Linked DNA regions of Homo sapiens. The protein of the gene in region 2 interacts with the protein of the main gene of each other region in a biochemical or structural test. Each region holds a gene or a part of one and is shown on either strand. Other genes may lie near its edges.

Region 1 (7,730 bases), on a different chromosome or scaffold from region 2:
TGAGTTGGCAGATTCTCTGGCCATTTAACTGGGAGTTTAAAGGCTGATGAAATTACTGCCCGGCGACTCCAGTTTTCAAGGTCACTGGCTTGTGGATTCAGGTTTAGTTTCAAGAAATTTGTATGACTCATACAAACTGGCTATAGGGCCAGACCTGGCACCTGAGATTGGGGAGGTAAGCATCTGGCTTTTAATAATCTCAGAGCTGCTTTTAGTTGCAATATTCAGAACCGCTCTTCTTGGCCCACACTAGTTCATGTAGGCTCCCAATTTCACATGGTGGAGAAACACGAAGGCACTGCCCCCGTTCCTGGGACAGGCATATGATGCCATTAGAACAGGGTTTCCAAACCGCGCCCTGGTGCTCAATGTCACAGAACCAGAGCAAAGCCTCCCATTCTCAATCATTTCTGCTGGGCATTGCTTGCTAGAGTTTTTTAATGTGCATCTTTAATTATGATTACTCTGTGTATCTGTGCACCAGAGTTCTCTGTCTTTGTATCTCCAGACATTGCCTCCACAAGGACACCTCACTGCCTTTTCTCAACTGTTTTCCCACCCAGGAGATCTGTGTGGAGCTGATGACTCCACGCTGATACAAAGAAGCCATCCTGAAGGCTGCCAGGAGTAGCAGATTAAGTTCCTGGTGCCCAGGGGGAGTGAAGAGAGACCCAGTCACCCAGGGCAGTGGGCACTGCACTCCCAAACTAACAGACTCTGGAAATAAAAGCAAAACACGACAAGACAAAATGACAGCTCCTAAGGTGAGCCGAGAACTGCAGTTCAGAGCGTCACTTGAGGCTGTGTTTGTCACACGTGTGGAAATGTTGTAGGTTAGCTGGACCATTTCCACACTGCTTCCCCAGGCTCACACCACTTCCAAGAGCTGGAATTTGGGACAGGCTGAGTCCCTGGCACCTCTCACGGCCCCCTGCCTGGGCTCCCAGGGGCTCACCTCGCCTGTGCTGTGGAGCTGCTGAGCAATGCGCCTGAGGTCCTCCTCGCTGGCCAGGGGGTTCAGCTGGTCCTGCACGTCGTACACAAACTGCTGCAGCGACATCAGCTGGTTGGGTCCATTGAGCTTCCTCCAGGAAGGCAGCGTGGAGATGATTTTCTCACACAGGTGAGTCATGGGAGGACAGACCTAGAGGGGGCAGGGCCAGACAGGTTAACTCACCTGCAGCTGTGGGTGCCCTGAGCAGAGCCACAGTGGAAAGGACACCTTTCATTCAGGCGCCTTGCAGGTGATTTGATGAACGAGTGGGTTTTTTTGTTGTTGTTGACGTTTTTTTTTCTTTTTTTAGACTGGGTCTCGCTATTGCCCAGGCTGGTCTCAAACCCTTGGGCTCAAGTAATCCTCTTGTCTCAGTCTCCTGAGTAGCTCCGACTACAAGTACACACCACTGTGTCTGGCTAGTTTGTGTTTTTTGGGTTGAGTACTGGGGCAGTTGTCTTTTAGACTTGCTTTTAAGCCTCATCTATTGCTCAAATATAAAGTTTTATAAAGGCTCTTTAGTTCATGTTAAATAGATTTTGAGTCTTCTAGGAACGTTTTTGGAATTGTGGACTCAGTCACTCAATCAACTAATGTTCACCAACTCCTAATGTTTCACTCCCTCACTTTTTCCTCCCTCCCTCCTTTCTTCCCTCGCTCTCTCTCTCGTGACTGTTTCACTCAGGCAATGATCACTTTATGAACAGAGGAAAAGAGAATGAGTATCATCATCAATATTAGAGTGAGTGTTTACCAGTAAATTAGGCATTCGTGGGGACTGTTGTTGAAATATTGTTTCCAATTAGACCCATTCTTGGTATGTAGGCTGAAGTGGATTTTTAACCTTTTAACTTGGTTAATTAGATCAGCATATGTTACAGACTCACGTAATCCACATACCTCTGAATTAGAAACCACATAAGCCACAGGCTACACCGTGCCATTAATTCCGCACTCCCCTCTCAAATTCTTTTGTGTCAGCTAAATTCCACTCTGCATTCAAAAACAAAATTCTCAGGGGTGAGTGCAGTTGATGTGGTGGGCTCCACCTGCCTGAGCTCAGGAGTTTAGGGGTTGGGCGGGGGGTGTCTGAGAAGCAGCAGATCATGCCAGAGCCCAGCTCAAAAATCTCCAGGGACACTCCCTCCTGCCTCAGGAATGCAGCCTCAATCCAGACCTGGTGGGGAAGCACAGGGGCCCTCAGAGACCACTGTTAGTTCCCAGATCACCGCCCCTGGTTTCTGTGACAGATTCCTCCCAGGCCTCACCGGACTACCCCCTATCTTCTGATGATGCCACAGTGGGACCCCAACGAGGATATCTGGTGTGAAGGGCAGGGTTTTCTGGAGACAGGAAAGGGTTTCCCGAGAATTCTGGAAGCACATCTAGAACCAGAATCTGGTGCGGGAAGCACAGCATTTTCTTATTAGCAAAGCAGTTAAAAAAAAAAAAAAAAAATACACCCAGAGGCAGCTTCAAAGGTAAGAGAGGGAGACAGGCATCTGCCCGCATTTGTCCTCAGGCCTCGGCAGCAGGAAGACTCCAGAGTGAATGCCACCACTTCTCCACTGGGACGCTCGCCCTTTTCTTACCAATTCCGGAGAGCTTTTTGAACATTACGGTGTGACCATTTATCTGTCCAAAGCATTGAGAATGCTTTTTCCCAGCCTATTTCACCTTTCAACTTTGTTTACTTAATTTGTTTGCTAGAAAAAAATTTTAAAAATTTTTACATTTTCAAACAGGTATATTTTCTTTTAAAATTTCTAGGGTTTTAGATCTTGGTTTAACAGGTTCCCTCAGTCCCTAGTTATTTTGAAAATACACTCTCCACAATTTCTATTCAAGGTATTTATTGTTTCATGTTTTTACTTAAAAGCTTTAATCCATTTATTTTTGGACTTTGTAGGGTGTAGGAATCCAACTTTATTTCCTTCCAGACAAATAGCCAGTTGTGCCAGGTTCATTTATTAAATAATCTTTACCCCATTAAATTCAAATGACATATTTATTTTCCATTATATTTCTAAAGATATTATGATTTACTTCTATACCCTCTAAGCTTTTCCTCCTATTTAACTGTATTGATTATCAGGGGCTTTATAATAGGTTTAATGAATTTTTCCATGGAAATTTTAAGATAAAAATCCCAATCCCCTCAACCCATTCAGATGCTAACTGAAATTGTATTACATTTATATAACTAGGGAAAAATAAAATAGTCATATCTTGCAACCCAAGAATACAGTCTCATTCCCTTTGTTCATTTATTCTTTTCTGTCTTTCAAAAAAGTTTGTGACTGTTTTTCTACTTTTCTGAATTTTCTAAATATTCCACAATAAGTCACTTTTGAATTTTTTGGTTTTTTCCCAAAATTGGCCAGGCATGGTGGCTCACACCTGTAATCTCAGCACTTTGGGAGGCTGAGGTGGGAGGAGCACCTGAGCCTAGGAGTTCGAGACCAGCCTGGGCAACATAGTAAGACCCTGTCTCTACCAAAAAATCAAAAAAATTAGCCAGACATGGTGGTGCGTGCCTATAGTCCTAGCTACTTGGGAGGCTGAGATGGACAGATTGCTTGAGCCCTGGAGTTCAAGGTTACGGTGAGCTATGATCACACCACTGTACTCCAGCCTGGATGACAGTGTGAGATCCTGTCTCTGAAAAAATAAAATAAATAAATAAAATATTGTTAAAGAAACCAATAAATCGGTAAGAATTTCATAAAATTGAAGTGGTCCACCTTGCCCATAATAACCCTTCAGCTCCCATCATCTCCTTGTTTCTCTATTCTTCCTTTCTTTTCCCAGGGCACTAGGATAAAGACATGTCCAGGCAGACACCTCTTACTGGGTCCTACTATGAAGCAGTTCCCTGAAACCAGAGGCAAACCAGGAAGGAAGTACAAAGGGGTCCAGGCTCTTTCCATGGTGTACTTACCGAAACAATCTGGCTTCGTATTTCTTGCAGATGATTTCGAAGTACCTTCATGTCCTTTGACCCAGAAGCCCCAGCATCCAGAACAAACAGCTTATTTGAAATGTGAAGATCATTTCCAAACCTAAGGGAAGAGCAGCAGCCTCCTCAGCAGTGAGTCAATGTCCCCAGGCCTTTTAATGGAGGGGCCAGGCTCCTACTGGCTCAAGAGGCTGGTAGGAGGGAAGGAAAGTTCTGGTGTCCTTGCAAAGGCCCCTCCCCATCCCTGCTGTTGGTGGGCTCTGCCTCATCACAGTGGGTGCAGAGACTTGGGGAAACTGGCATATAGTCTGAGTCATAGGAGCGGGACCTTCAGGTTTGCATGAAGCAGCAGGAGCACAGCATGGAAAGATGTCAGCTTCTCCCGAGGCAGGAAAGGTGAGGCCTAATGCTCGCACCTTACAAGTGAGGACAAGAGATACTGTGGAAAGTGGAGGGACTAAGAATAGAGGTGTGAATGCAAAAGCTACATCACTGACCTAAAAATATTAATAGAAGCCCCATTTTTATATCTGGCAACAGATATAGTGTCTCAAGACAATAGATAAATGTCTCAAGTTGATAATGCAAGATCAGAGATACTAGCATATTATAGAAAGCTGCAGGTTCAAACTGTTTTGATAGACTCTGAGTAAAAACATATATTTTACATCATAATCCTGTACATACCCATACTCATCAGTGAAACAAACGTTTTACAAAATAATACTTGACATCTGATCTATCCTATCCTGTCCTGTCCTTTCCTGTCCTATCCTATCCCATTCCATTCCATCCCATTTTAAAAAGAATTGGCCACGACTTCCTAAATGAATTTTAAGACTCACTAGTAGGTTGCAACTTATATTGTAAGACATACTGATTAGTGTTTCTGAACACTGAATACTGAGTACTGAAATCTAAACAGCTAAAAGAAGTCACCTCCGGGCAGTGTTGCTGGGAGGTAGAAAGAAGGGGGTTGCTTTCATCACGTGCTCTTCATTTGTATTTGATTTACTATGTGGATTCATTGTTTTAATAAAAATGAAAAATAAAGGTTGTGCATCCCTAATCCAGAAATCTGAAATGTTCCAAAATCCAAAAACCTTTTGGGCAAAGACAAGACATGCAAAGGAAATGGTTATTAGAGCATTTCAGATTTAGAATTTTTGAACTAGGATGTTCAACTGCTATGTATATGTACATATATTAAAATCCAAACAAATAAGAAATCAGAAACACTTCTAAAGCCGATCATTTCCAATAAGGGATACAAGACCTGTACAAGAAAAGAGTTGACCAAGAAAGAAAGACCTTTAAAACCTTTCTCTGGTTCATGAGACTTCCTTTGTACTTTTCACACCTCTGCTTCAGTTCTCAGGGAGAGGAGGCTACCCGTGAGCTGGAGACTAAGTGGCTGCCCCTCACCTGTTCCTAATCTCTTTCAGCAACGATGTGTCTTTGTCATATCCAAACTCGCCTCCAGCCGGTCGAGGAACATTCATGATGTCAGCGTGGGTGGCCACCAGGACAACTTGGAGTGGGTTCTTCAGCTTGCCACCGAAGGCTGGGGGCAGAGAGGGAACTGCTTCAGGGGGTGGGTCCTCCTACCTGGCTGCCTCTCCTGCCCAGGTGAGGGCGGTGTGTTGGCCTCATGCCCAGGCCGACTCTCCAGGTACAAGTGCAACATGCCACAGAGATGAAGGCCCCACGCCTGCTGTGCACTGTGACCCTAGAAGGCCCCAGCATGGCCAACGACAGGATAAGCCTATCTCCTAGGCCACAAGGAAAATTGCTCAAAGTGGACCAGAATGACTAAAGGCAGTTTCTCAAGTCTCCAAATAGCCCCTACTTACAAGGAGAGGGAAAATTTAACCTGTGACAAAAGGGATGCCGCTTACAAGACCAAAGAGAGACGCCTGAGTGCAGCAACACCACAGAGATGGGTCAGAGGTAAATGACCTGCAAGTCACACAAAGAGCCTCCCACTTCGGGGAGTGTTTAAAACAAAGGAAAAAAAGGACAAAGAAAGAGGCAAAACTGGCAGTACCCAGAGGGGCATTAAGCCCAACTCCTTGTATTATATGCTTTTCCGGAAAGAAAAAAAATTGACTGCTGAGTATTGCATTTCACCAGGGAAGGCTGCTTCTCTTGTTGTGGGCAAAGACCAAAGGAAGTTTATTTCATGTTATCCTCTCCTCTAGGAATAAAGTTAAGATAACACATTCAGTCAACATGCTCCCTTTCTTCATTTCTCTCTCTTTTTTTTTGAGACAGGGTCTCACTGTGTCACCCAGGCTAAGTGCAGTGGCACGATCTTGGCTCACTGCAGCCACAGCCTCCCAGGTTCAAGCAATCCTCCTGCCTCAGCCCCTGAAGTAGCTGGGACTACAGGCACATGCCACCACACCTGGCTAAGTTTTTGTATGTTTTGTAGAGATGAGGTTTTGCCATGTGGGCCAGGCTGGTCTTGAACTCCTGAGCTCAAGGCATCTGCCCACCTTGGCTTCCCACAGTGCTAGGATTACAGCCGTGAACCACTGCACCCGGCCTCTTTCTTTGTTTCTTAGTGGAATTACAGGATGAAGAACTGCTCATTCTGCTGACTAATTCTGTACCCTTTAGGTAAAGGTGCAGTAGCTATCCAAGCAGGGATTCCATTTTGCACCCAACATACAATGACCATGGCTCTCAAGTGTAGAAAAAAAGTGAGAAATGCCTCTCAAAGGATTGTTCAAAGTGGGCCTTTGAGGCAGGAATATGCAATCATGAAACAAAAACAGCCTGCAGAATACCACGAACACTTGAGCCTCATGAAGCTTCTCAGAGTGGAAGTCTCCCAGCAGGAAGGAGAAAGGAAGTTGGCTCAGCTGTTAGCCACAAACGGTGGGATCTGCTCATGGCCTGGTGCAAGGCCAGCAGCAGCAGTGGCAGGAGCAGGGCAGAAGCCTGGAAGGAGGAGGCGATTCCTGGCCAACCACAGGTAGGACATCACTGGCCTGCAGGGACTTAGCTCACCTATGGGTTCTTCAACTGGGACAAGGGACTTCAGGAAACTGAGCCAGAAAATCACTTGGTTCAGCTGGATCTCATAGGGCTCTTCTAGACTAAAGACAACAACATGGATTGACGTGGGATCATTTGCAGCAAAATAGTCATAACAGCAGAAATACACAGGATTTCCAGAGAACTCCCACACGCTGAAATCGCCAACTCCTACAGAAAAAGAAAAATGATAACAATCGTGAAACACCACTAACCAAATTTCAATCATAAATTCTCTTAGCGTTCCACGGATTCGAAGTAGGCATAGTGATACTTATGGCATTCTTCTGTATGTGTATACATCTTGTTATGACTTGGGTATGGTTTGTTCCCCACTAAAACTCATATTGAAATCACTCAGTGAGGTGATGTGGGAGGTGAGGCCTGGTGGGAGGTGTTTGGGTCCTAAGTGCAAATCCCTCCCAAATGGCTTGGTGCTGGTGGGAAGGAGTGAGTGAGTGAGTGAGTGTGTTCTTGCTCTTGTGAGAGTGGATTAGTTCTCATGGGAATGGATTAGGTCCTGAGAACGTGGATTGATGTAAAGCAGGTTTTTGTCCCTTCCCGTGTGTCCACTTACCCTTTGACCTTCTGTCACATTTAGACCCAGCTCAAAAGCTCTCACCAGAATCAAAGCAGATGCTGGTGCCACGCCCCTTGAACTTCCCAGTCTGCAGAGCCATGAGCTAAATGAACCGCTTTTCTTATCAATTACCCTGTCTCAAGTATTCTGTTATA
Region 2 (7,730 bases):
TAGCAAAGGCGAAGTGCTCTGGGGCATTGTTTTATGTGCAGCCAAGGCCACTCAAAAGATAAAACTGGCTGGACATGGTGGCTCACACCTGTAATCCCAGCACTTTGCCAGGCCGAGGCAGGCAGATTGATTGAAGTCAGGAGTTTGAGACCAGCCTGGGCAACATGGTGAATCCCCGTCTCTACTAGAAATACAAAAATGAGCTGGGCGTGGTGGTGTGTGCCTGTAATCCCAGCTACTTGGGGAGGCTGAGGTAGGAGAATCATTTGAACCCAGGAGGCCAAGGTTGCAGTGAGCCGAGATTGCACCACTGCACTCTAGCCTGGGTGACAGAGCAAGACTCTATATAAAAATAAAATAAAATAAAGCCACAGAAGGCAGTCAGCCTCCCTGCAAGATCCCAGGGCTGCCACTAGCAGATTAGGCGAAGGTGAACCTTCTCCTAGGCAGTGCAACTCAGCTCCAAGGGGTGTAAACACAGGCTGGGTCTCTGCCCCCTCTGCCTGTCTGTGGAGCTCTCTGCTGCATGAACAACCTACACAGCTGTACATGGCAGTCCTGTGAGCTCCTCAACCTGAACGCCAAACAGTATTTCCACATCCAGGCTTTTGTCTTTGCCCTAGAATGTCCGCATGCATTTTCAGTTACAAATGGGAAGAGAGAATTATTTCACAGTCCCACAACCAAGACTGGGTCTAATTAAGATGCTAGTGCCATGAATCAGCCCTAGAGAGTGAAAGAGTGGTTTAAGAAATGTAATCGTTTTCTCCCACGCCCCTACAGGGATGTTGTGTTTGGACTTACCGTGGTAATTCCAGCCACATGACCCAGGATGGGGACCAGTCACTGGGTGGGGCCATGTTGTGGTTGGAGTCCAGGGCTGCTGGGCTGCTGCAGTCTTCCTGGGGCTCATACTCTTTGACTTCCAAAGCTTTGAGTACTATCGAGGATGATGTTCTTTTCAATAATGCCACTGCCTCACTCCGGCTGACCTCTGTCAGTTCGACCCCATCCACATTCAACAAAATGTCACCTGATGGCCAGAGAAGCAGAAGCTATCTTTAGTGAGAGCACAAACAGGGACTTCTGCTTAAAGTGCAAGGGGATAGGGGCTGACTGGGATTGCAGGGATGCAGAGAGGGCAAAGGTTTTCTTTGTTGACGGGAGGCTGGGTGCTCACATAGCAAATGGTAAACAGTGTGTGCATTCCAAGGTGCTGTTAAGACTTGTTTGGGGTTTTCTAAAGCACAGCTATCGGTGTTTTACACAAGAATACCGCTGAAGGAAGGAAGGAAGGGAGTGAGAGAGGAAAATTAGTCTTGTTCACTATTTAATCAAAGAAAACCTACTTTTTCACTCTTTTGTTTCTTGTTTTTAGCATAAAGTAGGAGGATTTGGCAAAAGCTCCAGCATTTGCACGGAGCCAGGCATGTAGTAGGCCTCCAGTAAATATGGATTGAATGAAAAGAAACTACCCATGAGAGTGTCTGGCAGAGGAGTCTTGGAGCTGCACTCTTAAAGAAGCAGAAAGAAAAACATTTTCATTGCTAAGGTGAAAATAGCTACTATTGGTTAAGCGCCTACTATGTGCAGGATCATTTCCATATAGATCATATAATCCTCTAGCTTATGTTCTGTTAACAAGTCATTTGTTAACAAGCCACTTTGTTTGGCCTCATCATTTTCCACCCAGATGTTTTGCAGAAAAGAGAAATTAAAATATACATCTCCCCTATTTCCATTTTCTATTTTTTTATCTTCATCCTGTTTTTTTCTGTCCCCTTTTGCTTAACTTTCTTATACAGAATAACCACAGCAAGAGCAAAAAGACAGGAGGAGAAAAAAGAGAAAGGCCTTGAGTCCTTTCTGACCCGAAAGAAGCATCTTTCAGACAGCTGACTAAATCTCTTAAGATACCATCCCCCTGTGGCTCCTCAGGCTCAGCAGCTGTACTTGGGAAACTTCACAGTTTATCTCTTGAACCTGGACTTTTAAATGGCATAATTCCTCACCCATCTGAGCTACCTACCCTCTTGAATGAATTGACAATATTATTAAGGATACATATTTGTAGAGGCAAATTTGATATCATCTTCCTTTATTTACTCAAAGTAGCCCAGAATACATGAGCTTAAAGTAGTGAAATAATTTTCACTCTGGGAAAGTATCCAGCATGATACTTTCACTTAATGAGTATTCATTGAATCAAATCTATCAAATGACTTTTTCTATCTAACCCATATAATTGAATAATTCATGAATTATTTCATGAATTCCACCACCGGATCAACCCACTAAAGAACCACTTAGAATGAATGGAACTACATTATGCCATTTAATAGAGGTAACTTGCTCATAACTGTAGCAGTTCTCTATTAATTCCTGGAACAGTTTGGAGATTCTAGCTTTACTTGCAGGCAAGTTGGCCTGCAACTAAGAAAAGTGGAACCTGGTCTAGTATCTATACTCAAACCAATCATGGTCAATGGGTAACAAAAGTCCTGGCCGATCACTCCCACATTCTCTCATTAATTTTGAAAATAGTCACCTAACAAGCTACTAATTTCTCTTGATTCTCTGCCACCCCAGTGCCTTTAAAATCCCTTTACTTTTTACCTGTTTTTATTCTTCCATCTCTGCTTATGACTCCTCCGGGCTCAACACTGATGACATAGATAGGCAAATCCCATTCTCTATGTGATGCTCCCCCTGCGACGGTCATGCCGAGAGATTCACCGGGGTCTTTTTGGATATTTACCACCTTCTCATGACAAGTAATTGTAGGATGGAGGGGCTGAAGGCACAGATGGAAAAACATGGCACATGAATTCACAACTCTGGTAGTTTTTGAATGTAGAAAATGCAAAGTGGGTTTCCATTTTCTAAATGCAAAAATTACCAAAGCTGCATAAATTATGCAAAGTGCATAAATACAATGGTGGTTCTTGAAATCACAGAGAAAGACACCTGGAAAGAACCCTCACCTTATCCACTCCCAACCATAATAGGGTTACATTGTCCCAAATTCTACAGGTTAACTCAGATAAAGTTTACACTTCAAAAGGAAAGAGTAAAAATGGAGGAAGGAACCGATTACAGACCATTAGAAAAATATATTTCTAAAATATTTTCATAGAGAAAAAGTATTGCTTTGTTGCTCAGGCTGGTCTGGAACTCCTGGCTCCAAGTGCCTTGGCCTCCCAAAGTGCTGGGATTACAAGCATGAGCCACTGCTCCTGGCCATGGAGGAATCTTAAGCACACAGAGTGAACTGCACCCAAAATTTCTCAAGTGAGTCATTTATTCCTGATAGTAGTGAGTCAGCATTTCAAAAACACTCTGTCATTTATAAATATCAGAAACTTTTCTATGTTAAAAAAAAGTAACCATATTTTATAGAGTCTTCTTTCACACCTGCTCAGTGCTTACCAGGCAGCCTTGCCTGCGGTGAGCAAGAGATGTTTAGTTGTGCACTGAGGGGCTGGATGCAATGGCTGAAATACCACAAATATGGCATGTGTGCATGTGTCCTGTCTCATGAACCAGTGTCCATGACCATTTCCTTTCTTAACCAGAAAAGCGACCAATGTCAGCAATGGAAAAAGAAAATCATCTGTGAAAGCTTCACACCCAGGGTTACCTGACTTTGGCTGGAGAGGAGGAGAGTTACGTATGAAAGAGATGACTTTTCTATCTATCTTTTTTCGCCATTCTCCTCACCCTACTTTGGACACCTTACAATGTTCCTTGATGTTTAAAAACATAATTTATGGTAAAATAGTTTAAGCTAATTAAAAACACAATGGGTACCTGAATATTTCTCAAACTATAAGATGTATTTCCATTTTAGAATATTTGCTTTGGATATTTAGAATAAAACATTTTAGACAAGTAAAAAAGCATAAAGAATAACAGAATGACCTACCCATGTACCTCAAAACCCTACATCAGAAATAAACATTCCATGTGCACTTAGTCGCTCTATGACTCTTTCTGCTCATAGGCCTTGCCTCCCCACAGAGGTAAACCATGCAAAATTTGATGCCTAGCATTCCTTAACTTTTTTAATTGGCTAAAAGTTTTCTGTCCCACAAATCCTGCTTTGTCTTCTTTGGTATTTCTTTGAATTGTTTAAGCTCTTATTTTTAAAAAGCTACCTGGTTTCCTAAACCAAACAAGATTTTAGTAAGAATATAAAAACTGAAATAATCAAAGAGCCATATATGTCTCAGTTTTTTTAAATATGTTACTTTTTTGTGAGGATATTTCAGAAGTCAGATAGAATATAAGTTAAAACGGAAATAATTACAATTCCGACTAAGTCAGTTTGCACGTTTCCAGGAATTAAGACATATGACAGAGGGTTGCAGCAGAAATGTGACCAGATCCTCCCAGCTCTTTCATGATGAGGAGGTGGAAGGAATTCTAAAACCACAGTGCAGATGGAGGCTACCTTCTCCATAATTTGATGACTTAGAATATGACGTATTCTAGTTAATTCAACTAAAATTAGTTAATTGGATAAAAACTTCAATTAATTAATTAAGCTAATAAACTAGTTTTTCATTAATAAAGATGATCAGTTAAATTTAAACATTAAGCATTTACTAGCAAAAAGACATCACGGAGTCCTTATCCATAAAATGTTTTAGCAGGATATATCTGGTCTGTCTAGACTCCTTATTGTAGAGAAACAGGTAATTTATGGATTTATGAGGCTTGGCTGGCTGGAGAACCTGGAGGGGTGTATAACCTTGTAGGCTATGTAATTAACATAGTATAAAGCAGAGATGTTCCAAAATAAAAAATTTGAATATTGTTTCTCTATATATTACTCAAAAACTCAATTTGTAAGCTATTCCAACCAACATATAGATTGACGTAGAAAGAAAAGGGCATTCCCTACTTTCTGTTGCAAGAAGAATGAGCTACCTTTAAGAATTTTTTTTAGTTACAAGTGATGCCATGAAACCAGAACTCAGGAGAGATGACTGAAAGAAGCTCATCAGCATCACAACAGGATGCCAAGCCAAAGCTATAGGACTCTTAATTTGGACTAAACAAGGTTTGTGTTGCTTAAACACGCATCCAAATGAAGAGGTTAAGGCATTGCCTCTAATAGAAGCCACAGAGAGAAGTACAAATTGGGCTGAGTCACTTCATTTAAAGTGAGGCTGCAAACTGGTGGCCTGAAGAATGAATTCCACCCACAGATCCACAGTGTTTTAGAGTTTTCTGGATTTGAATGCCATATAACATGTGCTCTCTGGTTTGCCCCAATCCCCACCACTCCCTAATGTTACATGAGCTTCAAGTGTTTAAATTATCTTCCTGGGCCCTTCGGCAAACACAAACAAAAACTAAAAGTAGCGGGGAAATCACTCATTTCTAGGCAGACTGAAAAATTCAAAAGCCAGAAACCAGGCAAACTGCTTGCTTCATTTCAAAGTGAATAAAATAAGTCCTCAAACAAGATGACTCTTGGTAAAAACATGCCATTTATTTGGCTTAGGCTAGAAATCAGGTCCCTGTATGAGGTCTGCATGATCAGGTTTCAAAACTTTCCTGCACCTTCTTCTCTCCTGCTTGGATGGGAGACACCTGTTATCTCTCCAAGTCTTAAATATGGGACTTTGGGCTTTTAGTTTTACAAGTCAAAGTGTTTCTTTAAGTAAAAAAGTCCAGAGATGACACTTAGACATGTTAAAACAAGCAGCCTTCCCAAGAAATAGCCCCTTGCAGGAGCAGGCGACCTGCCCTAGAGGCCTCACCTTGGGAGTGTTGCTCCTCTCCCCTGGCCCTGGGGACCAGCTGCCATTGCTGTTCCAGCCGGCTTCCTGAAAGATGTCAGGGCTCCGCTGCCGAACCTGGCGGGACACGACGAGGTGAACACGTCTTTCACTGGCCTGGGCAAGAAGACACAGGCATTAGCCACTGTCAGTTTCCATCCACTGCATTCAGCACCAGGAGCTTACAAAAACATCACTTTGATTATACCATTTTTTTATGGCAAAACATGATTTCTAGTTTGTTGGGTTTTTTTGTTACTATCCATCTTGTAATTTGCCAAGAGCATGAGAGCTCTTTCCTTTATCCTTAAACCAGGTAGTAAATGTTGCTCCAAGGGAAAACTAGGGAAGGTTTGGTTCCTTCCAATCTTTGAAAAGGCATCATCAGATATTGCTAATTCATTTTTAATTAATGGTTGTACCACACACAAGCCATGCCCTAAGTTCTTCCCAGATAGAATTAGGTGCACTGTGTAAAGTAGCAGCCCAAAGCAAAGATCTAAGATCAATGGTACACAGTAAAGAAAAAGAGATGGAGTTAATGGCAGTAACTTGCCACTGCAGGAAGAGAAATCCTGAGCCTGACACTTGCAAATATTTGGGCATAGGAAAGGTTTAGCACTTTAGAAATATGGGGATGACTTCATACATTAATATGTACAACCTAATCAAAATCCTTTACCTTCAATTCACAATCACAAAGACATGGAATCAACTTAAGTGCCCATCAACTGATAGGTAGATAAAGAAAATGTGGTATGTATATACCATGGAATACTACTCAGCCACAAAAAAGAATGAAAAAATGTCTTTTGCAGCAACTTGGATGGAACTGGAGGCCATTATTTTAAGTGAAGTAACAGAGGAATGGAAAATCAAATACTGCATGTTCTCACTTGTAAGTGGGAGCTTAGCTCTGGAGATGCAGAGGCAGAGTAATATAATGGACTTTGGAGACTCAGAAAAGGGGAGGGTGAGTGGGGTGAGGGATGAAAAACTGCCTATTTGGTACAGTGTACACTATTCAGGTGACAGGTGCACTAAAATCTCAGACTTCACCACCATACAATGCATCCATGTAACCAAAAACCACGTGTATTCCTAAAGCTATTGAAATACAAAATGTTTAAAAAACTGCAAAAGAGTAATTTGCCTTGATTTCTTTATTTTTTATGGAACTACCAGTTACTCTGCTAATTCTCTCTGCTATGTACATTGATATTTGGACAGGCATTCAGAATAGCAAATATAGTACTTATTGGAAAGGTCCACTCCACATCATCGATATGGTTTGACTGTGTCCCCAGTCAAACTTCACCTTGAATTGTAGCTCCCATAATTCCCATATGTCATCGGAGGGACCTGGCAGGAGGTAACTGATTCATGGGGGTGGGTCTTTCCCATGCTGTTCTCGAGATAGTAAGTCTCACGAGATCTGATGATTTTATAAATGGGAGTTCCCCTGCACAGGCTCTCTTGTCTGCCACCATGTAAGACATCCCTTTGCTCTTCCTTCATCTTCCACCATGACTGAGAGGCCTCCCCAGCCATGTAAAACTGTGAGTTCATTAAACCTTTATAAATGACCCATTCTCGGGTATGTCTTTAATAGCAGCATGAGAGCAGACAAATACAATGATACATTTACAAATTGTCTTTCTGCCACAGATTAGTTTCACATGTGTCAGGTAGTATGGGCCATTATTCCAGAATTGCTGACCATTGAGATTTCAGAGCTGCAGGTCATTCAGACTAAATCTTAGACCTATGAAACTCACATAAATAGAGCTCTCTGGTGGCCTAGGCTGAAGTAGCCAGCTGACCTCATTTATCACTTTAGTAAAAGTTGAAAATGAATGAGATATGGAAGATTTGATTAGAAAGATTCCCAAGACAGACCTGGTTTAGGGACAAGGGAGATGGAAGAGAGAGGAGTAAGGT
Region 3 (8,547 bases), on a different chromosome or scaffold from region 2:
ACATAATCCCCTGGATTAAAGATTTTAAAGAAAGCTGCAAGGATCTCTTTCAGTTTTCAATACTGCTTCCTGTTCTTAACAGCCATAAAAACAGATCTAAATCAACTCCTAAATATAAACCATCTAGCTTTCAATGGAAGAAAAATCAAACCACGTACAGATAAAACATACATATTCTTTTTAAAAACACGCTGTAAATTACATTTAGGTTCCTCAAACAAGTTAAGTTTACAACATGTACCACATCCAGTTTATTCTCAAGGGAGAAAACCATTAAACAAAAGCTCCCTCTTAATAAATGATTTACTTTGTAGTTAAGCCTCTATCCCAGGTGCATTTTGCTGTCACATATTACCACTATTTCTTTTCTCTACAAAGACCTAGAAACTGTATATCTAGTTCCTTTAAAAATATCTGTATATGTTTTATATTAGTGTAAGGATAAGAAATACTTAATATTTTTACTCTCTAAAAAGGAAATATCTTTTCATTTTTCTCTTTTGCAGTGTTTCTTACTTTGTTTTTGCTTATTTTCTATACATGAAATTTTCTCAAGTCAGTCCATTTCAGTGTTGTTTACTGTCAATATGTCTGTGTATACTCAGGCTTTTACAAACAATGCTTTACGGTACAGTGATAAAAAAGAAAGGGTGAACAAGAGGGCACAAGTGAAACAAAAGCGGACAACATCTGAGAAACACCATTCAATTTCTCTGCCTCAGATTCCCTTAAGTTCTCATGCCAAAGATTCTCAATATCCAAAAAAGTTCCAGAGTCAGAGGCATAACACAATATGTGACAAGACAAACACAGGAGGAACCAAATCAGAAACTGAAGAAATTTAATGGAATATAATACTCCCAAAAAAACCTTTTTTTTTTTTTTTAAGATGGAGTTTCACTCTTGTTGCCCAGACTGGAATGCAATGGCATGATCTCGGCTCACTGCAACCTCCACCTCCGGGGTTCAAGCAATTCTCCAGCCTCAGCCTTCCAAGTAGCTGGGATTACAGGCACGCGCCACCACGCCCAGCTAATTTTGTATTTTTTTTAAAGATGGGGGTCTCACCATGTTGGTCAGGCTGATCTTGAACTCCTGACCTCAAGTGATCCGCCCGCCTTGGCCTCCCAAAGTGCTGGGATTATAGGCGTGAGCCACCGCACCCAGCTTTCAGACTTTTTTAACTGTAAGAAATATATTTTATCCTTTGGCCAGGAACTCAAAAAAAGAAATACACTTTACATTGTGACCTAGTACATACATGTAGGAGAAAAGTTTCCCAAAACAATACTTTTCCTTACCAAATGCAATGTCAGTTTATTCTGTTCTACATTTTATTTTCAATGCAGGTAAAAACTCACAACATTGATTTTATAAATTACTAATAAATCACAATCCACAGTTTGAAAAACACAGGCTAAAAATGAGTATCCTTTATAATAGGATCTTTTAGGCAATTTGCCTCTACCTGTCTCTTTAGCAGGTATTTTAAAGTTGCTACCATTATTACCGGTTTCATTAAAGTAAGTGGTTCTTAAAGTGTGGTCCTCTGACCAACGTGATCATCATTTGAGATAAATATAAATTATTGGGCCCCACCCCAGACCTACTGAAACCCCCAGGTGGGGCCAAGCAATCTACATTTTACCAAGCCCTCCAGGTGATTTTGATGCAAGCTAACATCTGCGAGCCAGGTCTTTACCTTCTATTTAAGAAGTCAGGTCTTTATCGTCTATTGAACAATCCAGTACACACGACTATGTGCCAGTCACTATCCTAAAAGCTCTACAAATACCAACTCACATGAAAAAAAAAACACCACCACCACCTTATAAAGTAGGAACTATTACTATTAGTATTCTGATGAGGAAACTGCACAGAAACTTAGCTAAGTGGTGGAACTAGAACTCAAAACTTCTTTTCACTTTAGCCGAGTATGCCTACCCTCTTTCTGATAAGTATTTACTTCTACTCCTTTAGTTCAGCTACTCCTCCCCTTTTCCCTCCCAAATTCCCCACCCTGTCAATGAACCTATTTCCTAATATTACTGCCATCATCCTAAAACAAATTTCTTTTCTAAAACAAGTCACTTAACCTTGCTTTTAGGAGCTTTGCTTTGGTCCTAGATGTCATCTTGATATTAATTACGAAACTGAAGTTTCTTCTATTTGTGAAGACCTGTGAACCTACATGGCTCCACTGTTAATTTCTCATATATCTACTGTCCTAGCCAGTTCCACGAAACCATTACTCTCTCCTCGGGCAACTTTCTTTCTCTACCTTATCCCCTCCTATAGGGATTCTCTCCCACCTCCGCCCATCTCCGTCCCATTTTGCATGACTCCTCTCCGACCGAGGGAACTTCCACTCCCCTGCTGGCTCCTCACCCCGGTCTCAAACGCGAGCCACTCCTCGAGGACTTCTTTCCTGGTCCCTTAGGGATCCTCAGAGCCGGAGCGGCCAGGCCAGTTGGGTCTCCCATCCCAGCTCAGCTATGGGGGCGCAGGGAGCTCCGGTTCTTCCCCCAGGCGGTGCAAGATCTCTACTCGTCCGACCCTCCGAAGACCTGCTGCTCCTCATCTCTCCAGGAGCCCCCTCCCTTGGACAGCCGCTTTTCTCAGGAGGGTCCCCAACCCCCTCCGAGCGTTTCCTCAGACGCCCCTACTTGGAGCAAGTCTGCTCCCTGTCACCCGGGACCCTGGCCACCCTCGGCCTTCCTACCTCCCTCGGACCGGGGCCACTCCCAGTTCCCCTGCCCCCCACCCCGCTCTCTCCTCACCGGCCGCTGCCGGGCTTCCCGGATTCCTTTTCTCCCTGGCACCCAAGCCGTCCTGGGTATTCCCAAGACACCCCGCCCTTGAAGCAGGTCGTTACAGGTCACCCCCTCTCTGGGACCCTGGCCGCTTCCGTTTCCTCAGATACCTACTCCTCACACAGTGGCCGCCGGTCAGCGCGCTAGACCGGAGCAGCTGGACGTCCCAAGGGACCTCCTGGCCTGACCCGCGCGGGTCCGGCCGTAGCCTACCTTCCTCGGGAGAACTCCGCAGCCAGAAGCCCAGCCCCTCTCCCCCTAGCCCAGTCAGCGCGAACTCGCCGCCGCCCCCGCCGCCTCCGCCCTGGCCCCGGCCCCGGCCCGGGCCCCGACCCGAAGTCCAGGCCCCCTTCCTCCGGCCTCCGCCTCCGGAGTGCTGAGCTGGAGATTCCGCCCCGCGACGGCCCCCAGATCTCTGACCCGCGTTACCGGCACTCACCTGCCGCTGCCCCCGACCAACTCAAGCGCCACTGCCTCTACCTCGGCCGCCAGTGGCCACCAAGCGCCACCACCTCCCCCATGACAACAGGCCCACCCTCTTTCATACTTCTAACCTATCCATTGGATAGTGGGGCGGCAGCTCTCCTCTCTGATTGGTTTAGTATACCCGCCCGTCATCGCTCTTTACCGCCCCTTTTCCTAAACCCGGTATTCGCCCCCGCCCGGACCTGGAGCGTCCTAGCCCAAGCTTTAGTTGTAATTGGTTGAGGGTTGGGCAATTCGAAGTTATGATAGGCTGCTAAAAGTGTCTGTTAAGCTAACTGGCAAGAGACGTGACGGTTAAGGTTGATTCACGCTTGTGCACAGTTTGGTTGCGCAGTAGAAAGCAAAGGAGGGGCAGACGCTCACATTCGTGGTTACCCGGGAAGGGTTAAGTCTTTGTTGTAGAGTTTTCTCTGTAAACTTTTCCACTTCTCCAGCTCACTTCCTGCAAGGAGAAGCTTATCTCTGCTAGCTTTATTCATAGGGGTAGTACTTACAAAACACCAACATTAGAGGTTGTGTTTAAGAAGTGTTTCCAAGCCCTGGGGAGAAAGGTATCAGAGAGATAAAAATGTCCCCTTCTTTTCTTTGGTCTCAATGCATCCAATTTCATTGAAGTTCTTTCCAGGAGCCTCAATGCTAAAGGGCAAAGCGCAAACTTTCATTTAGCAGAAATCAGTCAACTTCGGTTGCAATTATAAATGTCGTCAATAAACTGAAGTGGCGTATTGAGAGTTCTCCAGCTTCCAGATCCACTCCTGGCTGACCCCTGCCAATTGACCAGACAGCCATTAGCAACTTTTTTTTTTTTTTTTTTTTTCTGTGAGACGGAGTTTCTCTCTTGTTGCCCAGGCTGGAGTGCAATGGTGCTATCTCGGCTCATCGCAACCTACGCCTCCCAGGTTCAAGCGATTCTTCTGCCTTAGCCTCCCGAGTAGCTGGGATTATAGGCATGAGACGGGGTTTCTCCATGTTGGTCAGGCTAGTCTCGAACTCCCAACCTCAGGTGATCCGCCCGCCTCGGCCTCCCAAAGTGCTGGTATTACAGGCGTAAGCCACCGCGCCCGGCCAGCAACTTTCTAATAAGCGGGCCACATTATACCCTTTATGATGCTCTGGAAATGAGAATTCTGCTTTCCCCCACCTCTCACTGCCACTTTGTTTTTCTGTTCAGCAGTTCTTAAATAGCCCTACTAGCTGTGTGTCAGATACTTTAAAAGCTTCTCTCTCTCTCTCTCTTTTTTTTTTCTAAACCTCTTCCTAGCAGTCTAAATTAGGGCCATTGAATGAATTGCCGGGTTGTGTGTGTGTGTGTTTTTTTTTTTTCCTCACTTGGCACAATGCACAAGAATAAATGATTGCATTTTTTATTCACTTGGGTACAAATCACAGTAGGCATTTTTGAGAAATCTAATGTTGCTATAAAAACTCTTGTGCTCCTAGAAATATATTCATCATTAGCTTTTTGTTTTTCCTTTTTTTTCACCCACTTTTCCTGCTCCTAAATAACAAAATGCTGGTCTGATTACTCTTTCAGTTTCTAAATCAGATTTAAATGTACTTTCTCACAACCCCACCTATGATACATATACCCATGGGCCATGAAACAACACCCAGGGATAGTTTAAGACACTGTCAGGCCGTGCGGTGGCTCATGCCTGTTATCCCAGCACTCTGGGAGGCCGAGCCGGGCAGATCACCTGAGGTCAGGAGTTTGAGACCAGCCTGACTAACATGGTGAAACCCCTGTCTCTGCAGATGGTGCCACTGCACTCCAGCCTGGGCAACAGAGTGAGACTCTGTCTTAAAAAAAAAAAAAAAAAAAGACACTGTCAAGGAGGCATTCACCTCAAGGATGTGGACTTTGGAAATGTGCTTTGTCTCTTTCTTCTTTCTGCTAACCCTTTGTCTCATATTTCTTCTATTTACTAACCTCCTTGTTCTTTGCAGAGCAAGCTACAAAGAGTCTAAAACTGTATGGTTTATTATTCAGAAAAATATTGTCTTTTTTCTAGCCTATATTTTTAGTCAAGTTTAAATAAAGTACATACTTCTATCACCAGACTAAGCAGAAATTATTCCTCCAGTAACTATACATAACAATAAAGTGCCTTTTCCTAGTTATTTTCCGGAACTTTCCTCCCCCTCCTCTCTTCCTCACCTTCCAATTTAGAAATAACCTCCCATTCAATTCAATGACTCACAAAAAGCCTGTGAAAGGAAAGTGGAAAAGCCAAAATAACTTAGAGATGTCTGAATCATTCAGCTGAAGGAAAGATCAGACATTGACCATGATAAGATAGACGCCAAGACATAAGGCAAGCCTGAGCTAACATCCCATAACATGTGAAGTAATGCAAATGTGAAGATGCCCCAAGAAAAAGCAAATACCAATATGTCCTTTTACACAGCCTTTTAATATATCACCAGCAGCTTGCTTCTCTCTAGTCTTGGCAGTGTGCCATGCTACCAATTTTAGAGCAAGTTAGAAGACAATTAATGTCCTGACAGATAGGAAACAATAACGTCATAGGAGGACATGACCATTATTATGGTACTTTGGGTAATAATGGCTCTTGCACAGCCATAGTGACTAGGTGCCATAGAAAACATAGAATTAGGCCAGCCTTGCTAAGAGGACTTGCCATCTAAGTTGAAGAATGCAGCGAAATTACTATCACAAAACTGGGTGGAAAATTGTCACAAAAGTCAGCCGCTATTTCATACACTAAAAAAAAAAAAAAAAAGAAAGCATGTATAAATGCTTTTGCTCATATACACACATCTATCATTCCTATTCTTTGTGAATATCAGTTAAGAAAGGACATATAAAATAAATATGTTACAACCCAGTAAGTAGTGGGAAAACCTTAAGGAAGGTTTCAAGGAACATGCCTTGAAATAACAGAAGGCTATTGTGTTATCAAAGACTGTGCAGTACCGGAGGGGTTATTGCTTGTATCCCTACATTTTGCTTTCACGTGCACAAGGTAACCCTATCATGTAATTACTCCATCCAGCTTTTTTCTTTTCTTTCCTGTGTTTTTTGCTTCTCTACCATTCTCAGGGCTCCCTCTCAGAAAACAAGAACACTGGAGTCTGGGAGTCTGCAGCTTCCTGTTGCATGGCTGGCTGTGGAGGTCCTGCAGATGGTATCTGTTCAGAGCCACTTGGGCACGACCAAGATGGCAGGTACATTCGGGGCAAAAATAGCATTTATAATCCCAATTAAGCAGAAAATAGAGGACTCAGAGTGATGTCCAATATCTGAGGAGTGATATAGTGTGCCTTGGGCTTTCCTGTACACTAATGCTGTTTCTCCTGCTCTTTCATAATGTCACTTTTCAAGGGAAAAGAATCCAAGTCTCTTTCCATTTCTATTTTAGCCCACAGGGGCAATCTCACTAGGGAAAGGATCCATTTTTTGCTTTTGGATTTTCTTCCTCTGGATTCTACACACGATTCCAATTCCAACTAGATTAGAGAAATAAACAACCGGTGGAGAAGAAAATCGCTCAGATAGCAGACAAGGGCCAGAACTGCCTGCCACTAGCAGTTGGAGGCAAGCCAAAATATTTGATAAGAGGTAGCTTCCTGAGTTAGGGATCCCTGAGGGTGGAGGCTGACAAAGATGAAGGGATTAGAGAGAAGGGGAGGGAAAAGGAGGGAAGAGGAGGAGATGAGGGGGCAGGAGAGAAAAGGGTAAGAAAAGCTAGAAAAACAGTCAAAAAACCCAATCAGAGTGCTGAGCCAGCTTACAGTCCTGCCTTGCCTACCCCCTATCCCCACCCATGTGGACTTTACACTAGGTTGCATAATTACACCAGCAAAGTGCAGCCTCTGCCACTGGTTAAAAGGGAAAGCGTGCCAGGCTCCAGCCTATGGGACCGTTGTTCTGCTGCCACCTGGAAATCCTCCCAGAGCTCAAAGCCTGCTGCTCTGGGCAAAGCTGACAAGGAAGGACAGATTCAGCAGCCAACCAAGGAGCATACCTTCATTTGATTTCCTTAAGGCAAAAGCACTGGCTAAACAAAGGGAGACTATCTGGGAGAAGGTGTTTTCACCCTTTCAAGCTGGGGTGCTTTCACCACCGGGAAGTGCCACGCTGCTTTCCACGCTGGAACAAGGTACTGTGGTTTCAAAGTTCAAGGCTCTGTTTCAGGGATGGGAAGGAAAAAAAAATCAGTGAAAGAAGGTGTTCTGGTCTCTCAGGCAGAACCATTTGTTATTTGATTCCAGAGCTCATGTAATTTTTAAATACCACACTATGCATTTTCATTACTAAATGCATTCATTTTCATCCTCAAGAAAAGTGTATGCCCCCTTCCGCCTGCTTTACATAATATGGCTTGAGCGCTTGTAAAAATGGATGGGCTGTAGCTCTGAGTTCTGCCATTGTGCTATTGACTGGAGCTCCTGGTTACTATCACCAGATCTATGGGTGGATCAGCCATTCTTCTGCAGCAGGGAGTGGACCGACTCAAAGCACTTAGCACCATTTAAACTTTTGTCCATCTCTGTTTTTATGCACACAAAGAGTTTCCTGGAAACATGGCTATCCTCCAAGGATTTCAGAGAGTAGAATTCTTCCAGAACTGCAGTGTCCCAATCACTTGGAACCTCATGAGAAAGCAGACTTAAACTCAGACCCTAGAACCTCGAACTTAGTATGTTCCAAAAGCTTTGGCTCTGCCATTTACCAACTGTGTAATTTGGGGAACATTGATTCATCACCCTAAAGCTTCATTTTCTTCATCTATAAAATGAGATACATATTAGCTATCTTGTCTTGCATAACAAATTACCCCAAAACTCAGTAGCTTAAAAGAACGTTTATCGTCTCAGTTTCTGTGGGTCAACTCTCTGGCATTGGGTCTCTTATAAGACCACAGTCATCTCAAGCTCAGTTGGGACAGATCTGCTTCCTGCCTCACTCACCTCGTTATTGTTGGCAGGACTCACTTCCTAAGGCCTTGGTTCCCCAGGAGCTGTTGGCCAGAAGCCTCCCTCGGTGCCCTGCCTCATGGGCCTCTTCGTTGAGCATCTCACAACGTGGCAGCTTACTTCATCAGTGCAAGCAAGCAAGAGCAAGAGAGAGGACTCACCAGAGACAGTAATAGCAAAACAGAAGGCACAGTCTTTCGTAATCCAATCACAGATGTGACATCCCATCACTGTTGCCACATCCTGTGAGTTAGAAGTAAGTCATTAGGTCCAGCCCACACTCAAGGAGATTACACAAGGATGTAAA

The links.
Region 1: the proteins of LNX1 (region 2) and DAPK1 form a complex in vitro, tested with the Homo sapiens proteins (one study listed by BioGRID).
Region 3: of the proteins of LNX1 (region 2) and NUMB, one has a biochemical effect on the other in vitro, tested with the Homo sapiens proteins (2 studies listed by BioGRID, with this or other methods).

The regions. Positions count from the first base shown.
Region 1 is NC_000009.12:87,696,443-87,704,172, reverse strand, and holds part of DAPK1 (death-associated protein kinase 1), read right to left. Parts: intron 7,167-7,730; coding exon 6,969-7,166; intron 5,518-6,968; coding exon 5,379-5,517; intron 4,057-5,378; coding exon 3,936-4,056; intron 1,145-3,935; coding exon 956-1,144; intron 1-955. UniProt on the Homo sapiens protein: Calcium/calmodulin-dependent serine/threonine kinase involved in multiple cellular signaling pathways that trigger cell survival, apoptosis, and autophagy.
Region 2 is NC_000004.12:53,475,949-53,483,678, forward strand, and holds part of LNX1 (E3 ubiquitin-protein ligase LNX), read right to left. Parts: intron 5,907-7,730; coding exon 5,772-5,906; intron 2,795-5,771; coding exon 2,617-2,794; intron 1,034-2,616; coding exon 805-1,033; intron 1-804.
Region 3 is NC_000014.9:73,455,241-73,463,787, forward strand, and holds the start of NUMB (protein numb homolog), read right to left. Parts: upstream 3,307-8,547; 5' UTR 3,253-3,306; intron 2,494-3,252; exon of another isoform or gene 2,389-2,493; intron 1-2,388. UniProt on the Homo sapiens protein: Regulates clathrin-mediated receptor endocytosis. Plays a role in the process of neurogenesis.